Linked DNA regions of Homo sapiens: regions 1, 2 and 4 are each linked to region 3. The links come from fine-mapping of genetic effects on gene expression. A gene starts in region 3. Each other region holds a variant in brackets. All regions are shown on one strand. Distances are from middle to middle. Region 1 overlaps TRIM33 (tripartite motif containing 33). Region 2 has its middle 34 kb from the start of BCAS2. Region 3 holds the start of TRIM33 (tripartite motif containing 33). Region 4 overlaps SIKE1 (suppressor of IKBKE 1).

The links. PIP is the estimated chance that this variant, and not a neighbour inherited with it, causes the effect.
Region 1: its variant is fine-mapped to the expression of TRIM33 in whole blood (INTERVAL, PIP above 0.99).
Region 2: its variant is fine-mapped to the expression of TRIM33 in whole blood (TOPMed, PIP above 0.99).
Region 4: its variant is fine-mapped to the expression of TRIM33 in whole blood (INTERVAL, PIP above 0.99).

Annotation. Positions count from the first base shown.
Region 1 is chr1:114,393,653-114,399,972 of GRCh38, reverse strand. It overlaps TRIM33 (tripartite motif containing 33), which reads left to right. Exons shown (of 20, transcript NM_015906.4): 18 at 364-516; 19 at 1,983-2,033; 20 at 2,113-6,320. The coding sequence ends at 2,325. Among named protein-coding and RNA genes, the nearest start is that of TRIM33, 110 kb to the left of the region's middle. The variant A/G (reference allele first, on the strand shown) is at 2,856.
Region 2 is chr1:114,544,640-114,550,959 of GRCh38, reverse strand. No RefSeq gene overlaps it. Among named protein-coding and RNA genes, the nearest start is that of BCAS2, 34 kb to the left of the region's middle. The variant A/G (reference allele first, on the strand shown) is at 2,494.
Region 3 is chr1:114,508,437-114,514,756 of GRCh38, reverse strand. TRIM33 (tripartite motif containing 33) reads left to right here and starts at 3,554. Exons shown (of 20, transcript NM_015906.4): 1 at 3,554-4,206. The coding sequence starts at 3,681. It overlaps LOC124904348 (a long non-coding RNA gene), which reads right to left and starts at 3,419. Exons shown (of 2, transcript XR_007066452.1): 1 at 2,832-3,419. RefSeq lists enhancers at 1,595-2,357, 3,218-3,387 and silencers at 3,578-3,687, 3,718-4,017.
Region 4 is chr1:114,764,125-114,770,444 of GRCh38, reverse strand. It overlaps SIKE1 (suppressor of IKBKE 1), which reads left to right. Exons shown (of 5, transcript NM_025073.3): 5 at 1-966. Among named protein-coding and RNA genes, the nearest start is that of CSDE1, 9.3 kb to the right of the region's middle. The variant G/T (reference allele first, on the strand shown) is at 3,478.

The DNA of each region.
Region 1 (6,320 bases), 110 kb after region 3:
ATATATTTTGTAAATTTTTTTCTTTAAAAAAAAAAGAAAAACTCCTAAGGAGTCATAAAATTCTGGTAAGTCAAATGTTGCCTCAAGGCTACTGGTTGGTTACCCTTGCTAATTGCTTTCTTTCCAAATCTTATTATTAAAAGTAGGACTTTGGGGACTTGGACTAACCATGAAGATTGGCACATATGCCACATAAGATTTGGTTTTCATGAAGATGTAAAGTACATACGTCTATACTCAAAATTTGCAAGCAGCTGGCTCTATAATAATTTTTTTCCCTAAAATTAATATGCTATGCATTTTCAAATTAAACAGTTTGGCATTTTTGGAGAATTCTTATTTGCCATTATGTGCTTATTTTAGATACCAAACTACTATAAAATTATAAAGAAACCAATGGATTTATCCACCGTGAAAAAGAAGCTTCAGAAAAAACATTCCCAACACTACCAAATCCCGGATGACTTTGTGGCCGATGTCCGTTTGATCTTCAAGAACTGTGAAAGGTTTAATGAAGTATGTTAACTTCCAACCTATAGAGTCTTGATTTGTTAGTTTTTGTTTGTTTCCTTGTTTTATTTTTCTGCTGACTTTAATTTTATTAAAATTTTTTTTTCTGCTAAAGTCCTGTCAAAAGTAACATCTGATTGTATTAACAGCTCCAGTGAAGAAAATTTATTGTGTATAATTTGGAGTATATACTTAAATATAATAAATTAAGAATATTATCAAATATCCTTTTCTAAATGAGTTGAGGATTGGCATAAGTATGGAAAGTACTGTCAGTAGTTACGTATATTTTGTGGAATATGATTATAAACAGCTTACGTTTTGGGTACTATTAGGAAAGTTATCTGTACCCATGTCCTTGCATTTTATTATTGACAACATGAATGTAGAACCTTAAAATAACAAACTAATCTCTGGTGACCCATCTTGAATAGTAGCCCAGAGTATATAATACTAAGTTTTCTTATTTCAGCAGTGTGACTTTGATTAATTTTGGTTATGTTTTTTGGTTTGGGGAGTTTTTTGTTTTTTGTTTTGTTTTGTTTTGTTTTTTTTTTTTTTTTTGAGGGTAAGTTTGAGTTAGCCATGCCTTGAGAAGAAATGTATTATATACCTGTTTCAGGGAAATTGTTTTTATTAGGGATAAAATCGATTCTATTATTGTTATGGAAGAGTTTCATTGTAGGAGAAGAAAATGGAATTTAATGAGAATCCACAAAATCTTTTAAAAGATTAATACTAAAGTCTCTTTATTGCTGGTGTAATTTGGGTGCCATATGATTATTACTAAAATAAATCACATTGGATCCTGTAACGTATTCCTATAGCTGCCTCTGGAAGCATCCAGATGGCATTTTAAAATCAAAAACAAAACAAAATCCTCATAAGGTGAAAATTCTAAGTCACCTTTATAGCAGTATGGCACAGAGTATATTAGTAAAATCTCACTAGTTTGAAGTTATATTTAGTCCCAAATTCTGTCTTATTTTTCAGTGCAGTTAAATTATTTTCAAATAAATATGCTTTCATGAACTATAGTTGATAAGAAGACCCATGTTTCCTGCCTCAGTAATAAATAGTTTATGATTAACATATTGCTATACAGATAGAATTTTTATTAAGTGGTTTGTTGAAAGTTTGTCAGTTTTTTAAAGCAACGTTTCTTGTATAATATGCTTCACAAATATTTTTCTCTTGGATAGATTGATGTGTTCAGACCAATTCCTATTCAGATTGACCTTGATAATTCAAAATAAGACAATTACTGAGGTTTCACAGTAGCTTTAGTAACAGGGCTTTGTAAAGAAAATGGTTCCATGTTCTGTAGAATTTTAGAAAAGCACTTTATCTGGTTATAGCAATTTGTTCTCCCTAGTATGGCTGACTTTTCGTCGCCAATCCTATGCAGTCTCATAACTTTAGAAAGGATTATAATTTCCCTTTTTTTTTTTTGACTCTGGTATCCTTTTTAGATGATGAAAGTTGTTCAAGTTTATGCAGACACACAAGAGATTAATTTGAAGGTAAGCTTTTCAGACCATGCAAACTTGGTGAAGGAATATGCATTACCAATAGGTGAATATTCCTATCTTTTGCTTGCAGGCTGATTCAGAAGTAGCTCAGGCAGGGAAAGCAGTTGCATTGTACTTTGAAGATAAACTCACAGAGATCTACTCAGACAGGACCTTCGCACCTTTGCCAGAGTTTGAGCAGGAAGAGGATGATGGTGAGGTAACTGAGGACTCTGATGAAGACTTTATACAGCCCCGCAGAAAACGCCTAAAGTCAGATGAGAGACCAGTACATATAAAGTAAAATGACATGGATTTAAATCAATTGTTTAAAAAAAAAAAAACGAAAAAAAAAAAAAAAACACAAAAAACCCAGAAAACTTTTAAGTGTTGCTGGAATATCCTGCCTACAGTGGGCACCTCCTTGAAGAAGCTGATAGCTTTTACACAGTATTAGATTGAAATAATGGACAGAAACACATTCTTGTCAAGAAAGGGGGAGAGAAGTCTGTTTGCAAGTTTCAAAGCAAAAAGCAAAAGTGAAATGATTTGAGGATTTCTGTTCTAATGGAGATGATTCTCTGATTGTTAGAAATGGCAAATATTGATGATTGTGTGCTATTGATTGGTGCAGGATACTTGGTATACGAGTAAATACTTGAGACTCGTGTCACTTGATAAATTTTCTTTTTGGACTAGGTCGCACAGTTATTAAAACAACTTTTAACCCTCCCCCTTCACACACATACATATCAGGTTGTTTTCTAGTTAAAAACCCAAGTAGCTCAGATTCTACTTTAATGTCAGTGCAGATTTGCATTGAATCATGCCATT[A/G]TGTTTTTTCTCATTTTTATGCTGTTGGGTCTTAGTTTTTAAATTGATATAAAGAACTCAGCAATGGTTTTATTTTCTACTCATACTTAGGGTTTAGGAAACACTACCACTAGTTATCATTTAATCAACTTCAATGGTCTACTGAAACAAAAATGGTAACTTTTCATTAGTGGATTATTTAGAGTTATAGTAGTTGTTTCCAGAAAACACTTCCTCACAATTGTACTTCCCAATCAAATCATGTGATCATACAGTTATTCCCATGAAAGGCAGAATGTTTGTTTCAAAATTAATCTAGTTTTCTGTACATTTAAATTTGAGAAGGTGACAACTGGCTCTTTTCCAGTCTTCCTTCATGTCAGTTTTCTGATAGACCACTATTGGCAAACAGTATCTGTCAACTACCAAATGTGTAAAATTTTCTGTATTTCACTTTGTCTTATTTGTAAATAGTGAACTAAAACTTTTGGCAGATCAGCAACATTTGCTGAGCCTGTTTTTTAAGCTAATGTGTATTCTTACTAATGTTCCTATCAAGAATGGATTTGTAATATATGCTGTCTATTTCTAATGTTCACATTCATATTTTGAGGTTCTATCTTATTTTAATAGAGAACAGACTTCTCAAAAAATCTTCAGAAGCAGCTTATTATTGAAATATCGAAATATTGAAATAAACCCGGTGGGGTTAGATTACTCATCTGTCCACCAAGTGGGACATTTGCATGGACTGGGGGCTTAAAGGACTTAGAAGAGACCTGTAAGTAAATCCTGAAAATGAGCCAATCCCCACTTGAATGGTTACTGGAGTAAACCCACCTTTACCACCCCAATTACAGCACCCGAGGCCGATAAACCAACTTGGCTCTGGTTCATTTTTCTTTTCTTCATTTGTGATGCTCAGATTCAAAATGTGTGTTCTACACTGTTACAGGCTTCTCTTTTGTTTGATTAAAGATTTTAGTCCTACTTTTGTATGGACACATTAGAATATTCAGAGACCAAAATAGAAGAATTTGCTGTTAGATATTTTTCAGAAGTCAGCAGATTTGTGGCAAATCATTTATTTGCCTTTTTAAAAATTCATTTAAGCAGTTCAGAGAGTAGACTACTCAGAAAATTATTTCACGTAATTGTCTAAGAGGTCAATATTTTTTAATGCATATTGAATCAAATAAAGTGCTCTAAAGAAATTATTATACAAATTCCTTTGGGTTGTTTTTCTTTTCTTAACAAGGGGTGGGGGTAAACAGGAATATGATTCAGGCTTTCTGGTTGTGTATTTAAAGAGTATTGATTTTATTATTACTATTGATTTACTTTATTCCTGGCTTCCTTTTCACTTTTCTTTCAATTTTTAAAAAATAATTTAAGCCGTTGAAAATATACCAAACTGTTGAAACATTTTACTCAAATTTTAAATTCCTAAAAATGTTTTTTAATAAGAGGGAGAAAATTATTTAAAAATACTTATGCCTATGCCAATTTCCCTCTTTTTTCACAAAATCCATGATTTCAGTTTGTAAGTAGACATATATCTAAGGGCACATTTTTGGAAAGTGAGGAATAGCAGCAGTATAACTTCATTTTGTCAGGCCTTTGAGTTCTAATATTTTGTATTGCTCTTCAAATGGATCCTTTTAAAAAAATTGTAGATAATGAGTCATAAATAGATTCTGCCAACTGAGGGGAGAAACATTTTAAGTAAATATTTTTCAGTATTTGGGGCCTTAAAAAATAATTGTGTTTCCTTAAAATTACATGTTAGATAGAGTTTTTAGGTTTTTTTGGTTTTAAGATTGGTTAAAGCAATTTAAAAGCCACTTTTTTGTCAACATTTAATAGCCTCCACTTCTGTTAAGATAATGTATACTGCTGAGGAATTACTATTAATAGCTATCAACATACCACCATTAAATTAAGGTATTCACTTTAGATTTTTTATTAAAGCTTTTTTCTTGCACACTGATCGTTGTGTTTCTAAGCTGATTTTTTCAGCTCTAATATACCTATGGTTAAAAAGTATAAAAACTTAAATTGATATTTAGATATATGTTTTCCTATTAGTTTATGTTTTAAAAAGACAAAATTGTATCTGTCAGTCCCTGAAGGCAGTTTGTTTTTATACTCTCTCACATTTGTATTTGTTTTTTAAATGGCAGTATTTTAGAAGATTTGGAGAAAAGTCCACATAATAATGTTTTCTTAAAAGCTTTTAAAGTTTTTGCTGTACTTCAATTTACTTCTTCCATCAGAAAACTAAGAACAAAGTGTTGCTCAGTCTGTTCCGCTGACCTAAATTTGTGTTTTCAGCACTTGGCTCAGCCAATTCACTGAGTGAAGGAATTGCTTTATGAGGCAAAGCATGTGAAAGTTCTAAAGTATGGTTAGATTGTAGGTCGTGCTCTATATGGAAACATCAAACCATTACTACAGAGAAATGATAAGGCATTGGATCCACTATTGAAATTATTATTTTTGGATCAACAAGTTGGTACTTTCTGACTTCTGTATCTTAACATAAGGGAATTTTAGGTAATGCTAAGTCAGTTGTCTCATTTTTTGTGATAAGTTTTGGAATTTTTAGTTAATTGAAATAAATAATGCTTTTAAATAGAAGTAAAAGGTTTATAAGTGTGCAAATTGTAGATTTATCAATTACCTCAGCAGGTATCCTGCCATGTAATTATTAGTGATTAGTGTTAATAAGATAATAGATTCAGGTCTTCCAACTATGCCCTTGGATTGTGGCCTACTGTATGTTATTAAATGGTCTCTTACTATCCAAAATGGGAGTAGATGCTGTGGCCCCGTCTCCCTTGGCTTTTACGTCCCATATCCACCCCCATTCATGTACAACATGTGAAATATAAAAATCTCATTTCTTGTCAAAATCAGCACTGCTTATTTGCATACTCAGCATCGGATCAGTGAGTAGTTTTATAAAAAATCCACGCACCCAACTCCCTTAGTTAAAACAGATTCTTAATTCATACCATGAATTCTTAATTTCTGTACCATCTATGTTAATGATCTGCTGAAGGTGACTCAAGATTTTCAAGGTGTAATACAGTTTGATCATGTACCGGACCTGGATATTTAATTTTTTTTCCCTCACAGTTAATCTCCTCCTTGATAAAGCAATAACACTGCTTTGAGTCTGTTGCCTAATAGCATGTCAGAATCCTCTCCTGGATGGTGATTTTATAGGAAAGTTTGTATGCATATCACCCAGTCTATCTTTTAAAAATTAAGAAATTTAAATGTATGCTGGAAGTAATGACACTATATTGTGGCATTTTATTTTAAAAATTGGGGAAAGTTGCATATTTTTTTAAAAGTAAGTGTTTGAGTAAAAAAATTGAAGGTACTTTTTTAAGGAAAAAAATTTATATGCCACAGTTTACATAGACATTTCAGATTCAACACGTACTCTTGAATATAATGGTTTCTTTTACTTGGTCA
Region 2 (6,320 bases), 36 kb before region 3:
TACCATAATTTTTAAAAACCACAAAATGGGGAAAACATTTAAAATGAGACAATCTAATAATTTAAAAGGTTTTTATATATTACATTTTTTAAAAAAGATCCTATTCACCCTTTTTGAACAAATTCTAGTGTCTACATTGCAAAGGTTATCCTCTGACCAACTTAAAACTTAGGGTTTTAAGAGGGATGGTACGCCTGAAAAATCAGCCTTCTTTTCTCAAGTTCACATTCAGCAATGGGCTGGAGTTATCACCAATTACTTGCACTTAGTGAGCAGGCAGACACATAGCTACCATTTCCAGTGCTAGAGGGGAACCAAGGCTTTAAAAAAAACTCTAAGAGAATGGCAAGAGAGCTTCTTGAAAGATCTGATGGTATCTCAACCCTCATCAGGTAAATTCAGCAAAAGTCATCTGACCTCAGGGGGGAACCTGCAGAGCAGGGAAGCTGACCTCTCTATCTGAGTATGCGGCTGTGTCCTCTATGTTTTCAAGCTGTTAAAATTCTTGTGTGTTTACCTACATTAAAGAAACTTGTATTGTTGGCTTGGCTCTGTTGGTGTCTTTTAGTTAATCATACCATCATTGCTTTTTTTTTTTTTTTTTTAAGAAATGGTCTCGCTCTGTCGCCCAGGCTGGAGTGCAGTGGGACAATCTTGGCTCATTGCAACTTCTACTTCCCAGCTCAAGCGATCCTCCAGCCTCAGCCTCCCAAGTAGCTGAGACTACAGGTGCAAGCCACCACATCCGGCTCATTTTTTCAGTTTTTGTAGAGACCGGGTTTTGCCATGTTGCCCAGGCTGTTCTCCAACTCCTGAGCTCAAAGTGATTGGCCAGCCTTGGCCTTTCAAAGTGCTAGGATTACAGGTGAGCCACCATGCCCAGGCCATCATTACTTTTTTACATCTATACAGACTGGTATCAGAAGTGAAATTGGCTCAAAGTCCTAGCTCCTAAAGTAATTTGGGGGAATTTTTATGAAATGCAAGCAGAGATAAATGCTGCAAGATTTCTAGGATGGTTCTCAGATCATCCTTAGAGCAGGAACCCCAAAATGTTGTGACTTTTTATAGTAGAGAGGTATCAATTCACTGTCCACTCACATCTTGACTTCAAGTGGTTTGGCACAGTAAATTGAAAACATATAAACATTTGATGAGGCCAAAAACATAATCTATGGGTGCTTCTATCAGTTTTTGCTAGAGTAGCCCAGGTTCCTGGGGTTTTCTTCAGGTTCCCAAGGTTTTCTAAACAAGTTAACTAAGCTTATAAGAGAAGGAAATTATTAGCTGGGAGTGGTGGCACCTGCCTGTAATCCCAGTTACTTGGGAGACTGAGGCAGGAGAATTGCTTGAGTCCAGGAGGTGGAGGTTGCAGTGAGCCAAGATCACGCCATTGCACTCCTGGGCAACAGAGCAAGCCTGGGCAACAGAGCAAGACTCCATCTCAAAAAAAAAAAAAGAACGAAATTTAAACCAGTAGACACTGATATCTGGGATAAAAATACCTGAGTTAAAAAACTAGTGATTTGAAGAAAGACTGAGGACTCATTCAAGCCACAACTAACACTAGATTGAGCAACTTCTCAAGCAGAAACTGGGTAACCGCTGAGGCTGTGGAATTGAGAGGGGATGAGAGTGGTGCCAAAGTACGCTGACTCTCACTGGCCCCACCTTTCCTGGCAGTACCGAGAAAACCAAGGAGGAAGGGAGGTGAGCAAGTCATAGCTAAGGGGAAAATATTAAGTTAGAACAGCAATAGGACATTTTGGGGACACACTTGGGTATTACAGATTTACATAATATTGCATCAATTTTTTATTTCATGGGTAAGATAAAGGTATTGTGGTCTTCAAAGATACGTGCTGGAGTGTTTTAAGGATGAAGCGTTATGATGTTTAGGACTTACTTTCAATGGTTTCAGCAAGAAAAAAAGACATGCATAAATAGGAAGATAGATAATAGATGATAAGCATATATATATATATAACACAAATATAGCACAATACTAGCAACTGGATAAATCCAAGTGAAAAGTATGTGGGTGTTTATTATACTATCCTTTCATCTTTTCTGTAGGTTTAAAATTGTTCAAAATTAAAGTTTTTTTAAAATAATTTAAACTGCTGTGAATAGCTTTGTTTCAATATGTGTGAACTACTTTTGCTACTCTCAGAGACAAGGCTGAAATACATTATGACCTTGGAGCTCTGTCGTTTGTGAAAACTAACTGAAATTAAAAAAAAAAAAAAAATATATATATATATATATATATATATAGTAGAGGCTGGATGCAGTGGCTCATGCCTATAATCCCAGCACTTTGGGAGGCCAAGGCAGCACAATCACTTGAGCTCAGGAGTTCAAGAACAGCCTGACTAACATGGTGAAACCCCATCTCTACTAAAAATACAAAAATTAGCCAGGCCTGCTGGTGCTCACCTGTAGTCCCAGCTACTCAGGAGGCTGAGGCAGGAGAATCACTTGAACCTAGGA[A/G]GTGGAAGTTGCAGTGAGCTGAGATTGCGCCATCGCACAATTTGCATCGCACAATTTGCACAATCGCCATCGCACAAGTTGCAGTGAGCTGAGATTGCGCCAGCCTGGCCGACAAAGCGAGACTCTGTCTCCAAAAATAAAAAATAAAAAAATGGTGGAAAACTTCAAGCTAAAGAAAGTGAAGTGAATGTTTACATTTATTTCTACTACCTCCCAAAATCACACTACAACATTTAGTAAAAGTTTTTTGTTCTTTGTTTTGTTTCAAGGCATAAATCCACAAAGACAAAGAAAATGAGAGATGAGACAACAGCAAGAAATTGGAGAAGATGGAATGCAAATGGAAGAGGGGTAACTGATTCAACAGATGCAAAGAAGCTAAACCTTAAACCAACAGTGAGAAAGCAAAATATGAAAGTTAAAAAGCAGTTTTGTTTATCCACACAACCTTCTGGACCCAGGATTTGGTAGCACCAGTGACCTCTGGGAGTGGGGGTGACTGTGAGGTAAAAAGTGAAATTGGGCCAGGTGCGGTGGCTCACGCCTGTAATCCTAGCACTTTGGGAGGCCAACATAGGCTGATCATTTGAGGTCAGGAGTTCGAGACCAACCTGGCCAACATGGCAAAGCCCTGTCTCTACTAAAAATACAAAAATTAGCGTGCTTCTGTAGTCCCAGCTACTCTGGAGGTTGAGGCAGGAGAATTCAAGCAATTCTCCTGCCTCAACTCCCAAGTAGCAAAGGCGGAGGCTGCAGTGAGCCGAGATCGTGCCACTGCATTCCAGCCTGAGTGACAGAGTGAGACTCTGTCTCAAAATAAATAAATAAATAAATAAATAAATAAATAAATAAATAAATAAAATAAACACAGATATAATAATATTATTTAAATGTACAGTCTCAATGTCCCCCAGATGTCTTTATGGCTCTTCGAATTTAACTTTAAGAAGGAGTTAGACCCTGTTCTACCTTAACTTTAAAGAAGCAGTGAAAGGCTCAAATCCCCATCTTCAATACAAGCTGGCTGGGCAGACAGAAGGCAGAAAGCATGTTTTCCAAAAAGGGGGAAAATAGAGAATTGCTTGACTGGGAACACCTAGTACTGTCAAGGGCAAGGATTCAATCTTGAAAGAAGAAAGATTAAGTGAGAGCTTATATACTTAGGAAGAATCCCTCAGCCCTCTTTCCCCACTCTGCTAGCAGCCTCCTTCTGGAAGGAGATTATAAGGGTCTTTGCTGGCAAAATCTGGTCTGGCCGAGAGAAAAGATCTAAAGATCTAAAGACATCATTGAAATGAACCAGCTAGATTACTCTACAGTGAAGGGCAGAGTTGACAGGCCCCATCTACATGCACAGGGTTTTCTAGAAAATTTTTTGTGCTCCCTCTGTAAAAGTTGAATAAAGAATATGTATTAGATGGCCAGGAACAGTGTCTCATTCCTGTAATCCCAGCACTTTGGGAGGCCTAGGTGGGAGGCCAGGAGTTTGAGACCAGCCTAGGCAAAATAGCAAGACCTTGTCTCTCAAAATAAATAAATAATAATATGTATTATATATAGTATTGTATCAATGTTAAATTATCAGAATGTGAAATTATATTGTGTTTGCATCAATTCCTAGCCAACTAGGAAGTCAGGGGGAATAGTAGCTATAAAAGACCACTCTTACTTCTGACACCAACTGCAAGTCTGGGAGTTCCCCAAACCATCCTCAGGTTGATAATCCTCTACAAGGACTCACAGAACTCACTGAAAACTACTATATTCATGGTAATAGTTTATACAGGAAAAACATACAGATTAAATTTAGCTAAGGGAAGAAGCGCATAGGGCCAAGTCAGGGACGTACCAAATGTGGAGCTTCCCTCGTCCTCTCTTCATAGAGTCAGAACACATTACTCCGCGAATGAATAAGAGAATGAACACCCACGTACTTTTCACCGAGATTCATCCAATTGCTAGTATTGTGCTACGTTTGCAATGTCTCTTTCTCTATATATATATATATTTATATATATTACCTATCACCTACCTATTATTTATCTATCTTCCTATCTATGCATGTCTTTTTTTTTTCTTGCTGAAACTGTCTTCCAATGTTGATGTGTACAATATGCCCAAGTATTCCTAACCAGGGAAGCTCACCCAGGCCTAAGTGTTGAGAGTTTTACTGGGACTTCATTACATAGGCATGATTGACTAATTGTCCATGTGGTTGATCTCAAACTCCAGGTCAACTGATACTACATCAACCAGAGCCCCCACCCTTCCGATGAGAACATGGCCTAGAGAAAAAATAAAAATATAAGGAAAAAAAGAAAAAAAACCCTAAAAACCAAAGCGCCTTCACCCTAAATAACATGTGAGTCTTTCTGGTTTGGCCAGCCCCAGCCCTAAATCACATTGTTAGAATATCCAGTCTGACACAAGGTGCCCTGACAAAGACTGTCCCGTCAGGCATAACATTCCAAGTACCCAGAGATTACATCCATGAAGCCTAGGGCAAAGGCCAGAACTTCTACTTGGGCAAAGCCAAATTCTTTACTACATAGTGTTTATATAAGGTAACATCCTTATTATTGGAAGTGTGCTAAAGTTTTTCAGGTGAAGCACCATATTGTCTACAGCTAACTTCTAAATGCTTGAGCAAAAATGTGTGAGTGTGTGTTTATGCATGCACATGGGTTGACAGAGAGAGAAAGAAAACGTGTCAAACTGTGAACAATTCAAGGATTTAGGTCAAGGGTATATGGATATTTATTGTACCATTACAACTTTTCTGTAGGTTTTTTATTTTTTCAAATGAATATTGGGGAGGGATTTTAGTAGGCTTTTCAGTTTAATGGAGGGTACCTTTATCAGAATAAGAGATAGAAAGGTCTCACCTTTAATCTGATCTCTGCTCTGAAGGCTTTATTCAAATGACAGGTTTTACTGGCATTATACCTTTGATCTGAATTTGCCCTGAGGCACGTTAAAGCACTAAGGAGTTTTAATAATAGGTATGAAACCACCTCCTTAATGTGATCTTTGCCTGGAGAATTTTAATCAAATAATAGGTTTTATAGGGTATTTTTTCACTCAAAACTTTTATAAACTCTCATCTTTTTCTATTTAGGATCTAGAAGCTCAAATGCTGATGAGGATATGGAGCAAAAGAAATTCTCATTCATTGATGGAAGGAATGCAAAATGGTACAGCCACTGTGGAAGACAGTTTCTTACAAAACTAAACCTACTCTTATAATAGCATCCAGCAATTGTACTCCTTGGTATTTACCTAAATAAGTTGAAAACTTACATCCTTACAGAAACCTGCATACAGATGTTTATAGCAGCTTTAATTATGATTGACAGAACTTTAAAGCAACCAAGCTGTACTTCAACAGGTGAATGGATAAATTAACTCTGATATATCCAAAAAATGGAACATTATTCCATGCTAAAGAGAAATGAGTTACCATGTTCTAAAAAGACATGGAGGAAACTTAAATATCTATTACTAAGTGAAAAAAACAACCTGTAAAGGCTCTATACATATTGTACCATATGATTCCAACTATATGACATTCTGGAAAAGGAAGAACTATGAAGACAGTAAAAAATTAGCAATTTCCAGGGTTTGAGAGGAGGAAGAGATGAATAGGTACAGAACAGAGGATTTTTAGAGCAGTGAAACCATTCTGTACAATACTATCATGGTGGACACATGTCCTTATACATTTGTAAAAACCCATGAAATGTACACCAAAGTGAACTCTAATGTAAACTTTTGACTTTAGGTGATAATAAGGAGTCAGTGTAGGTTCACTGATTTTCACAAATATA
Region 3 (6,320 bases):
CAAACCAGAGGAACAAGGGATAGTAGCCTAGGTCAGGAAAATGGCTGGACACAGCCTCTACCTCTACCTGCTGCTCAGTTTGGGCCACAGCATGATTCCTCTTCTTGAAATTTTCTCTCAGTGGCATGTGTTTCTCCTGCCAGTTCTGTTTCCTTCAGGGAACTTTGGGTCTACTTTAACATCCATGTTCACCATGTGCTGGGTGCTGTTATTAACGTTTTACAAATATTGTTTGTGAGGCAACCTTGAGGTAGGTCCTACCCGTAGCAAACACCCTTTCATGACTGAGGGAACTGAGGCAACCTAAGTAAGTTTCCCTAAATCACATAGCTAGTAGGTGATGGAACCAGATTCAAACCAAGCATTTTGTCCCAGGGCATAATGAACCCCATGCTATGCAGTCTATTAGACAGGTTTGTGCATTATCGTATCTCAGCCTCATCTGTGGACTTATTTCATAGTTTCTCCTGCAAGATTTCTGGGCTCCCACAGAAAATCAAGGATGTAACTGGGTCTGTTTCAATGATCCTAAATATTTCATGAGTTATACTCCAGGCACTGCCTTCTCAGAGCACACAGTGAACTTCATGGGGGCTGTTTCCATCCTATACAAATTATATAGTTTTCAAAAACAACACTTTTATTCTAGATTTTAATAAAGGCAAATGTAGCAGGCATCAAAAGGTTAAGAAAACTCATGGAAGCAAAACTTTTGGTTGAGAAATTCAGTTCATTAGCTTATTTTTTTGAAGTGAATTTGAGAAGAAGTGTTTATGATTTATACTCCATATTTTTCACCACCTTTACAGATTCTAACCTGATCCAACCAACCGAGTTATTACCCTATTAGCCCCTTAACTGGTCTTCCTTATTCCACTGACCATTTACAGGTGATTCCTCTAGGAAGCAGCCACAGTGACTCTTTTCACAATTCTGCTTTGAGTCTTTGCTCAAAACCCATCCAAGCCTTCCTATCTGACTCAGTGGTCCTAAGGCTAGGGTATGAGTACTCCTGGGGTACTTCAGTGAAGGAAAATTTTCCAAGGGGTACATAAAAAAGTAAGGGTAGTTTTAAGGGAATTACTCCATCATATATGTGAGTGTGTAGATACATACATGTATACATATATAGTTTTTAATGCAGTAAAGACTGTGGCAATGAAAAATGGAGTTGATACAGGACCTTATCTCATTCTAGCAATGTTATATGCATTCATGCCTACTCGAAATAATTAGGGGAAGGGGGAAGACTCCCAGCCATATCATTAAAACATTCCCAATACTTTTCCATGTTTAAAAAATATAACATTTTAATATACTTTAAAAAATGGATAGTATTAAGCCACTTTAGTGTTTACTTCCCTATTAGATTAAAAATAATTTTTAAATGTCAGTATTACAGAATGTCACAAATTAAACTCTGCAACTATTTAAACTTCTGAAAAAATTTAGTCAACTTACAATGTTTGAGGAAAGAAAACAGCCTTCCAAAATTCTTTCAAAGGGCACAAAAGTTAAAAAAAAAATTGAAGACCATTTCTGTACATGACCTGGCTCCCTTAATAACTCTCTTATCTCATGTCCTACTATTCTCTCCCTTGTTCAAGCCACTCCAGCCACACTGACTCCTCCTCTAACAAGCCAAGAATCCGTTTCCCTCAGGCCCTTTGCACTTGTTATGTGTTCCTCTCCTGCTCTTCTCCAAGACAGGTTCCTTCATCTGATCAACAGGGGCCTTCTTCAATCACCTCTAACCCCTTTTACCCCACTTATTCTTTTCTTCACAGCACTTACCACTCCCTGGCATGTATCTATTCTCAATCTTTTTCTCTATTAGATTGTAAACCCCTTGAATGCAGGGAGCTCCTCTGTTTTGTAATCCCAGTGTATCTCTAAAACACTATGACAATAAAGAGGTCAGGAAACATTTTTGAATAAATTTTAAAAAGTTTTCAGGAGGCTGGGCGCAGTGGCTCATGCCTGTAATGCTAGCATTTCCAGCGGCTGAGGCGGGCCAATCGCTCGGGCCCAGGAGTTTCAGCCTGGGCAACATGGTGAGACCCCAGCCTCTTCGAGGCAAAGGGAAAAAAAAGATCAGCTAAGTCATGGTGGCGTGCATCTACGGTCCCAGGTAATTGCGAGGAGCACGGCTTGAGCCTGGGAAGTCGAGGCTGCAATGAAATGTGATGACGCCACTGCACTCCAGCCAGGGCGACAGAACGAGGAGGTCTCAAAAAAAAAAAAAGTTTTCACGTGGTTTAAGGACTTACAGCACCTTTCTTGGGAACACTAACAGGAGACCAAAGCATTTCATGATCTTAACACTAAAACAGTTGTTGCACTACATAAAATCCTCCAAATACCTTTTTTTTTTTTTCAAATAAAAAGGCAACTTTCTGAAAGCTTTTCTTTTTTTTTTGAGACGGAGTTTCGCTCTGTCGCCCAGGCTGGAGTGTAGTGGCGCTATCTCGGCTCACTGCAGCCTCCGCCTCCTGCCGGGTTCAAGCCATTCTCCTGCCTCAGCCTCCTGAGTAGCTCGGATTACAGGCGCACGCCATTACACCCGGCTAATTTTTATATTTTTAGTAGAGACGGGGTTTCACCATATTGGCCAGGCTGCCCACGAACTCCTGACCTGACCTCAAGTGATCTGCCCGCCTCGGCCTCCCAAAGTGCTGGGATTACAGGCGTGAGCCACTGCGCTTGGCCTGAAAGCTTCTACTACCATTGTTGTAAGGGCATTTGTCACCCAGCTCAACCCAGGACACTTAAAGTGGGACCTCAGAAGGACGCAGTATTGGTTATATCCGTGGCTCTCCAAACTGACATACATAAGAATCAGCTGAAGGGACTTTTCCCCCTCCGTCGGCTCTCTCCCTCACTTCCTGATTCAGGTCTGGGGACTGGCCCTGGCATCTCTGCTTTGAAAAACTCCTCCGTTGATTCTGATACGTAGCAACTCCTGAGAATCACCTTAAGATGCCAAAAATAGCTGTTAAAGAGTTTCTTCCTCACTCGGTCTTTTCAGCCTATTTCTGATAGATCCTCAGTTCAAAAACAAAAAGCAAAAAAAAAACAAAAAAAAAAACCAAAACCAAACAAACAATAAGCCCCGCTTTAGTGCTCCACGGCCACCCAAAGGAACGCGGCTGGTCTACGCACAGCAGAGACCCAGGAGGTCCCGGCGATCGAGCGGCGCGGCAGGTGAAACTTCCGCGGAGACGCCCGGGACACGCTCGCAGGGACCGGAACCGTCCCGGCTACCACCCTTCCGTATGCACCACCGCTGTGTCGGAGTTCATAACCAACCCCAGCCAAAGGCTACCCAGCGTCAACGGCCTCTGGCTTTAAAAAAAAAATCTCCCTTCGGGTTAAAGAGCCGCGGCACTGACGCAAGGAACTGGCTTCGAGGGTCCGGGACCGCTCCGCGCCCGCGAACCGAGTTCCCGCCTCCCTCGGGAGGACGTCCGTGCGTACGTGCGCGTGCCGCAACCGCCCTCCTTCAAACGCGCGACGCGAGGGCGGGGGCGCCGCGTGCGCGCGCGCTCTCGTTGGTTCGCTCTCTCGCTAGCTCTCGGCTGCCGCTCTTGCTGCGGCTGCGGCTGGGGCTGGGGGCGGCGGCGGCGGCGACGCGGGCGGCGGGCGGCGCGGGGCGGTCCGGCGGGTTCAAAGAGGAAAACATGGCGGAAAACAAAGGCGGCGGCGAGGCTGAGAGCGGCGGCGGGGGCAGCGGCAGCGCGCCGGTAACTGCCGGGGCCGCCGGGCCCGCCGCGCAGGAGGCGGAGCCGCCTCTCACCGCGGTGCTGGTGGAGGAGGAGGAGGAGGAAGGCGGCAGGGCCGGCGCTGAGGGCGGCGCGGCCGGGCCCGACGACGGGGGGGTGGCCGCGGCCTCCTCGGGCTCGGCCCAGGCTGCTTCATCTCCTGCGGCCTCAGTGGGCACTGGAGTTGCCGGGGGCGCAGTATCGACGCCGGCTCCAGCTCCAGCCTCGGCTCCCGCTCCGGGTCCCTCGGCAGGGCCGCCTCCTGGACCGCCAGCCTCGCTCCTGGACACCTGCGCCGTGTGTCAGCAGAGCTTGCAGAGCCGGCGTGAGGCGGAGCCCAAGCTGCTGCCCTGTCTTCACTCCTTCTGCCTGCGCTGCCTGCCCGAGCCGGAGCGCCAGCTCAGCGTGCCCATCCCGGGGGGCAGCAACGGCGACATCCAGCAAGGTGAGCCGGAGGCCCTGCCTGGCATCTGGGCCGCAAGGGATTTGCGCAACCCTAGAGGAGCTGGGGACGGAGGTGCTGGGGCCTGGGGCTGCTCGGACGGGCGCCATCCCGAGGGGTCTCTAAGGTGAAAGACTCGCCCCTGGGACACTTTCCAGAGAAGCTGGACCGCAAGAGATAAGGGGAGCATGAAGGGAGGGGTGCCGGCTGCGAGAGGCTGGGGGAGGGGACACTGGCTCCGAGGGAGGGTTTGTGATGTGCGGAACCCGGCCGAGCGCTGGTTCTGGAGCTGGCAGACCCGTACAGTGAGAGAAGGGGGATTTGGGAAACACGTTGTGAGGAAGCGTTTTGGCTGAAAGGGCCCGGGCCAGCGAGGTGTTGAGGGAGTAGGTAAGAGGTAAGGGCAGTGAAGATGGATTGCTTTGGAGGGAGGGGACTTGGCGTGTTCACAGATAGGAGAGAGGAGGACTATGGATTAAATGGAGGTGGAGAGAATATGTTGGAGAGCAAGGGGTCCAGAGAAGGCGCCTGGAAGAAAATTGTAAGATGACATGGGGAAAGAGAAACTCGGAAAGTGGACTGCATGGTTAGGGAAAATCCTAAGGTTTGGGGATGAAGGAGAAATGAACTTTGAAGGAAATTGAGAGTTAGGGAAAGCTGGGCATGAATTTGTTTTAGCTAATTGGCCGTTAATGAGCCCCTAGTGTTGGGGCACTGTGCTAGGATTGAATAAAGTACTCAATGAAGACTTCATTCACAGTCTAACAGGAGAAACATATAACTTGCAGCAGTGGAGGTGAGTCCTCAGTACAATGGTTGTGGCACAATAGAGGAAAGGTCAGGGAAATTTCACAGGAAAGGAAATCCATGAACAGGTTTCTTGAAGAATGAGTACCTCACTGGGTTGGAGGGTATTCAGGGCACAGGACACCCTTCTACATCCCTGGAACTAAAGACTGTGTAGGGTGATTGGTGGAAATTAGATTGGATTGATGGGCTGAAAAGATAAAGGTTTCACAGTCTCTTAAACTCTTGGGATCCAGGTGTAAGGACTTCAGAATATTTTGGGATTTTTCTTTTTTCTGGCAAGGTCTGTTATGTGAGACTTTTATCAGGGTCTGAGTTAACTCTATCAAACACGTTAATGTTTCTACATTGAAACACGTGAATGTCACGCTAATGGGATAGACGATAAATAACCTCCCAGCATTCACAGTGGGTTCTGTTGCAAACCAATGAAAAAAATTAAAATTTCAAAGCTTTTGAATTTCGGGACTGTAGGTAAGCGATTGTGGAGCTGCACTAAAGGGCTTGGAATTCATCCTGTAGAGTGTATCCTCGACATTGTGGACTGAAGGATGTTCCTGGAGGGCTTTCATATCAAGAGGATAAAAGGATCAGATTTCTGATCCAGAAAGATCACTTAGGGCACTTGAGGGATGAGGGAAGGCAAGGCTGGAGACAAGGAGACCAGTTAGGAGAATCCTGGCGGTTATCTAGGAAAGAAATCAACATTTGGAATGGGTAGTAAAGGAATGATATATCAGGTATTACAGAATGAAGCATTTTGGTTTGGGGGAACGGTAGGGTTTGGAAATCTACTTTGCCATCTCCTACTTACGACTTGGGCAGATGACCTTTTCTTAGCTTCAGTTTTCTCATTTGTGAAATGGGAAAAAAGTATATAACCTCATAGGGTTATTGAGAGAATGAAGTAAGATAAAATGTGTAAAGTGATTAGTACGTGGTAGTTACTAATGAAATGGTAGCTAGTATATTAATAGTAGTAACTAATAGTGGCTATGGGAATGGAGGGATGGGGGGAGTGTATTGAGATTGGTGTGAGGGAGACAAACGTAGAATTCCACATTTTTTGTTTGGTGGATGGCAATGCTATTAATACATATTCAGACACTGAAGCAGGGCTGGGGTGAGGGTGAGGGCTGGGGTGTAGGGAGGATAAAATGTTTTCAGATTGGGATGTTTTGGGTTTCTAGCATTATTGGTACATGTAGGTAAGAATGTTAAGAGTAAGGCTTTGGTTGTTGGAGAAGCTACTAATTGTTAGTAGGTGTTCAGAGAATAACTGCTGGTGGTCTGTGCACCCATGACCATAG
Region 4 (6,320 bases), 260 kb before region 3:
TGATTTAGTTAGCGATAACCTCTAATTCTATTTTTTTATTTTTATTTTTTGAGACAGTCTTGCTCTGTCAACCAGGCTGGAGTGCAGTAGCACTGTCTTAACTCACTGCAACCTCCACCTCCTGGGTTCAAGCGATTCTCCTGCCTCAGCCTCCCAAGTCGCTGGGATTACAAGTGCCCACCACCATGCACAGCTAATTTTTGTGTTTTTAGTAGATGGGGTTTCTCCATGTTGGCCAGGCTGGTCTCGAACTTATGACTTCAGGTGATCCGCCCGCCTTGGCCTCCCAAAGTGCTGGGATTATAGGCGTGAGCCACTGTGCCTGGCCTGTAACCTCTAATTCTTGTTTGCTGGCTGTCCTAGAGATCCTGAGAATTACTTTTAATAAAATCATTTTTTTGCTGTTATTAAAACTAACCTGAATTGCCTAAAACCAAGAACTCTGCTTGATAAAATAAGCATAGTTTTAGGAACAGCCATGCAGATATAAATTTTATCAACACTTTATACATAATTTGGGACTTATATTTAAATGTAATATTTGATGCTTATAAAAGGGTAAATGGGGAATGCAAATAAATTATCAAGCATAATAACTCATCACCTAACTTAAGAATAACATTATGAGTGCTTGTATTTTATCTATTTGAGCTCTTCTCCTATCTTTGCCGACCCCCCCGCTCTCTTTTTAATAGATTTGTTCGAATGTAGAAAGACCTAAAATACATATGTATCCCTAAAGTGACTTATTTTATAGTTTTCTTTCTTTTTGAACTTCAAAAAAATTGTATCATACTCTATGTAGTCTAAGGATTTGGTTTTTTTCACTCAACATGTCTCTAGAATTCACAAGTTTTATTGTTTTATAGCTGTCATTTTCATTGATGTATATTTCATTGTTGGGTTATACAACATATTGTTAAGGAATACATACATATATAATAAATTATACATTTTTTAAAAAAATCCTTGCTAATATTTTACTTACTAATTTTTAATTCTCCCTTCCTGTGTCTCATTTATATTAAACACATTTAACTATAAGATGACGTATTTCACATTCTGCAGTTATTTCACTGATAATATCTCATGGCAACTTTCAGAGTGAATTAAGGGGTATTATCTGCTAATATAGGAAAAAGCAGATAATGCTTTTTGTTTTGTCACTCCTGTAATGCTGAAGAGGAGGCAGAACCTTCAGAGTTTCAATTAGCTACAACTTCACTCAAAATTTCATCTAGGCTCGTATAAATATGTGTGGAACTAATTGATGAATGTTTGTATGTTACTGATTGTAACATTCATTTCTATTTCTTATTTTAACATCTTTGATATTGGGATATGTCTTACACAGGTACAGGTTCCGATGTGGTTGATTGTAAGCATATACAAAATTGGTTTGCACTTATGGTGGATGACTGGACAAAGGCAATCTGAATATTTCAGTCAAACTCAGGACCATGTGAAAAAAGAACATGGGTTTTGGCCATTTTCTGTTCTTTCCATTGACACCTTTTTATCAAGAGTGTGCCACCACACAAATTTGGAGTATGGCTGGCTGTATTAGTTTTCTACTGCTATATAACAAATTACCACAAATAACAGTTTAGAGCAACATCCACGTATTATCTCACAGTTCTGTAGGTCTGAAGTCCATGCAGGGCTCAAATGGGTTCTCCTCTCTTGCACTCACAAGGCTAAAATCAAGGTGTCAGCTGAAGCCAGCATCCCGTATGAGGCTCCAGTCTCTCTCCCACGTTCACGTAATTATTGACAAAATCCATTTCAGTACAGCTCTACAACTAGAAGACTCTCTTCAAGGGCAACAGGAAATATCTCTGACTTCTTGTCTCCCACCTCTAGACTCCTTTTTTTTTTTTTTTTTTGAGACGGAGTTTCGCTCCCGTTGTCCTGTTGCCCAGGCTGGAGTGCAATGGCGTGATCTCAGTTCACTGCAACCTCCACCTCCCGGGTTCAAGCAATTCTCCTGCCTTAGCCTCCCGAGTAGCTGGGATTACAGGCATGTGCCACCATGCCCGGCAAATAGACTCCCTTTTAAGAATACACCTAAGTCAGGTCCAACCAGAATATCTCCCTCTTGATTAACCCAACTGATTAGAGATCTTAATTATATCTGCAGTAATCCCTTTGCCATAAAAGAGATATAAGTGATACAGCTTCTCGTATCCACGTTTCACCTATGCTTAAGATGGGATGATACAAGACACGTACGACACCAGTGGGAATCTTGGTGGCCAGCTTGGAATTCTACCTACTCCAGTGGCTTTTAGCAGCTCAGAATAAAATCCTGGAAACCATGAAGCACTCTTTGAGGAAATGCTACATTATCAGTGTTCTTGGTGGGCTCAAAATAATTCTATGTGGGAAAACCTGGATATCTATGAACCAGAAAGATTCAGCAAGATGCACCAATGAATAGTGGGCTAAAATTTAAGCAAAAACAGGATATTTATATACGTTTGCGTTAGTTCCTAGAGTTGCCATTACAAATGAACTCAAACTGGGTGGCTTAAAACAAATTTATTCTTTCGTAGTCCTGGAGACTAGAAGTCTCAGGGAGAATGTGTTCCATGCCCCTCTCCTAGCTTCTGGGGTTGCTGGCAATTCCTGTTCCCTGATTTCTAGATGTATCACTTCAATCTCTTGTCTTCATATGGCATTCTCCCTGCATGTCTCTAGTCAGTGTATAAAATTCTCTCTTCTAAGGACGCTACTCATTGGATTCAGGCCCACTCTAATCCAGTATGACTTTATCTTAACTTGATTACCTCCACAAAGGCCCTATTTCTAAATAAGGTCATATTCTAAGGTTCTGGGTGGGAATGAATTTAGGGGGGACACTATTCAATTCAGTACATTACCAAAGCATTGCCCTGCCCCCAAATACTCACTAATTACAAAGGGAAAAGTAGTAATTTTACAATGGAGAATCCTGGCAGACATCAACTGATTAAGGTAAACATCATTAATAATACACTTCAATGGCTGGACAAGGTGGCTCACACCTGTAATCCCAGCACTTCGGGAGGCCGAGGTGGGTGGATCACCTGAGGTCAGGAGTTCAAGACCAGCCTGGTCAACATGGTGAAACCCCGTCTCTACTAAAAATGGAAAAATTAGCCGGGCGTGGTGGTGGGCGCCTATAATCCCAGCTACTTGGGAAGCTGAGGTGGGAAGATTGCTTGAACCCAGGAGGTGGATGCTGCAGTGAGTCGAGATCATGCCACTGTACTCCAACCTGAGCGACAAGCGTGACCTCATCTCAATAATAATAATTGTAATAATACACTTCAACATTATATACCCCTGATATTGAGCAATGATAGGCACATAACCTCTGTAGTGTTCCAAATAATGTATAACCTCAATCTAATCAAGAGAAAACATCAGACAAAACCAAATTGAGGGAAATCTGCAAAATAGCTGACTGATACTGTTTTAAAGTATATATATAGA[G/T]AGAGAGAGAGAGTCAGTGTCTCACTCTGTTGCCCAGGCTCACTGCAACCTCTACCTCCTGAGTTCACTCCGCTCAATGCAACCTCTACCTCCTGAGTTCAAGCAATTCTAGAGCCTCAGCCTCCAGAGTAGCTGAGATTGCAGGGGCCTGCCACCACGCCCAGCTAATTTTTGTATTTTTACTAGAGACGGGGTTTCACCATGTTGGCCAGGCTGGTCTCAAACTCCTGACATCAAGTGATCCGCCCGCCTCGGCCTCCCAAAGTGCTGGGATTACAGCCATGATCCGTCACACCCAGCCTGTTTCAGTGTTAAAGTTGTAAAAGACAAAGACTAAAGAACTGTCATAGAAGGGAGACAAAGGAGACATAAAAACTAAATGCAGTGTGGGATCCTAGATTTGATCCTGGAGGAGAAAATGGACATTGTTGGAATAACTGGTGCAGCCCAAATTAATTTTGTATTTCAAGTCATATTATCATGTCAAAGTTGATTTCCTAGTTTTGAAAATTGTTCTATAGTTATGTAAGGTTAAAATAGGAGAAGCAAGTACAGAGTTTATGGAAACTTTCTGTACTATTTTTCTACCTCTTCTGTAAGTGTAAAAATCTAAAAAAAAAAAGTTCATCCCCCTGATTTCTAATGAGGCTGGGTATAATTTCAAGTATTTGCCTATACAGGTTTTAAAAAAAATATGGACCTTCAAGTATTTTCTCCATTTTCCTTTTCTTTCCTTTTGGCTTTTTCTTATTAATGTATTATATATTCATGATACCAATACATTTTTTATATAATGCAAATATACTAGTCTGTTGATTTTTTAAACTTTTTTATGTTGCCTCATGATGAATGGAATTTTTAAAATATGGTCAAATTTATTACTGAAAAGAAAGAGATTCAGAAGAGTTAGACTTTGTGAAGAAGTTTTAGGAATACCTTAACAAATTTATTTTGCCATTTTTTTTTTTTTTTACTTCATATACACACAAAAGGGAGACATGATTTAAATCTATGTCTAGGCAGGGCACAGGTGGCTCATTCCTGTAATCCCAGTACTTTGGAAGGCTGAGGCAGGAGGACTGCTTGAGCCCAAGAGTTCAAGACCAGCCTGGGCATCGCAAAACCCCATTTCTACAAAAAAATACAAAAATTAGCCAGGCGTGGTGGTGCATGCCTATAGTCCCAGCTACTCAGGTGGCTGAGGCAGGAGGATTGCTTGAGCCTGGGAGATGGAGGCTGCAGTGAGCTGAGATCATGCCACTGCAATCCACCCTGGACAACAGACTGAGACCCTGTCTCCAAAAAAAAAAAAAGTTTAAAATAGCCCTTTCAATAAATATAAAAATTCTAAGTAGTGAAAGTTTTATTTCATAATTGTATTAGTCAGTTCTCGTGCTGCTATAAGGACATACCCGAGACTGGGTAATTTATAAAGAAAAGAAGTTTAATTGACTTTCAGTTCTGAAAGGCTGGGGAGGCCTCAGGAAACTTACAATCATTGCAGAAGGGGAAACAAACACGTCCTTCACATGGTAGCAAGGAGAATGAGTGCTGACAAAAGGGGGAAAAGCCCCTTATAAAACCATCAGATAGGCTGGGAGTGGTGGCTCATGCCTGTAATCTCAGCACTTTGGGAGGACGAGGTGGGTGGATCACTTGAGGGCAGGAGTTCAAAACCAGCCTGATCAACATGGTGAAAGCCCATCTCTAGTAAAAAAAAAAAAAAAAAAAAAAAAAAAAAAAAAAAAAAACTCAAAATTAGCTGGGCGTGGTGGTACACACCTGTAATCCCAGCTATTTGGGAGGCTGAGGCAGGAGAATTGCTTGAACCCAGGAGGCCGAAGTTGCAGTGAGCTGAGATCGTGCCATTGCACTCCAGCCTGGGCAACAAGAGCAGAACTCCGTCTCAAAAATAAATAAATAAATAAATACAAATAAAACCATTAGATATTGTGAGAACTCACTCACTATCATGAGAACAGTGGCACAGGGGTAACAGCCCCCATGATTCAATTACCTCCCATCAGGTTCCTCCCACGACATGTGGACATTATGGGAACTACAATTCCAAATGAGATTTGGGTGAGGACACAGCCAAACCACATCACTCCGCCTATGACCCCTCCCGAATCTCATATCCTCATATTTCAAAACATGATCTTGCCTTTCCAACAGTCCTCCAAAGTCTTAGCTCATTCCAGCATTAACCCAAAAGTCCAAGTCCAAAGTCTCATCTGAGACAAGGCAAGACCCTTCCCTTATGAGCCTATAAAATCAAAAGCAAGTTAGTTACTTCCTAGATACAATGGCGGTACAGGCACTGGGTAAATATACCCTTTCCAAATGGGAGAAATTGGCCAAAACGAAGGGGCAATAGTCCCCATGCAAGCCTAAAATCCATTACACCAATCATCAAACCTTAAAGTTCCAAAATGATTTCCTTCGTCTGACTTGATGTCTCATATCTAGGTCACATTGATGCAAGAGGTGGGCTCCCACAACCTTGGGCAGCTCCACCCCTGTGGCTTTGCAGGGTACAGCCCCCCTCCCAGCTGCTTTCACAGCTGGCGTTAGGTGTCTGCAGCTTATCCAGGCATACGGTGCAAGCTGTCAGTGGATCTACCATTCTGGGGTTTGGAGGATGATGGCCCTCTTCTCACAGCTCCATTAGGCAGTGTCCAGTGGGGACTCTGTGTGGGGGCTCCAACCCCACATTTCCCTTCTTCACTCCCCTAGCAGAGGTTCCCCATGAGGGCTCCACCTCTACAGCCAACTAATGCCTGGACATCAAGGCATTTCCGTACATCCTCTGAAATCAAGGCGGAGGTCCCCAAACCTCAATC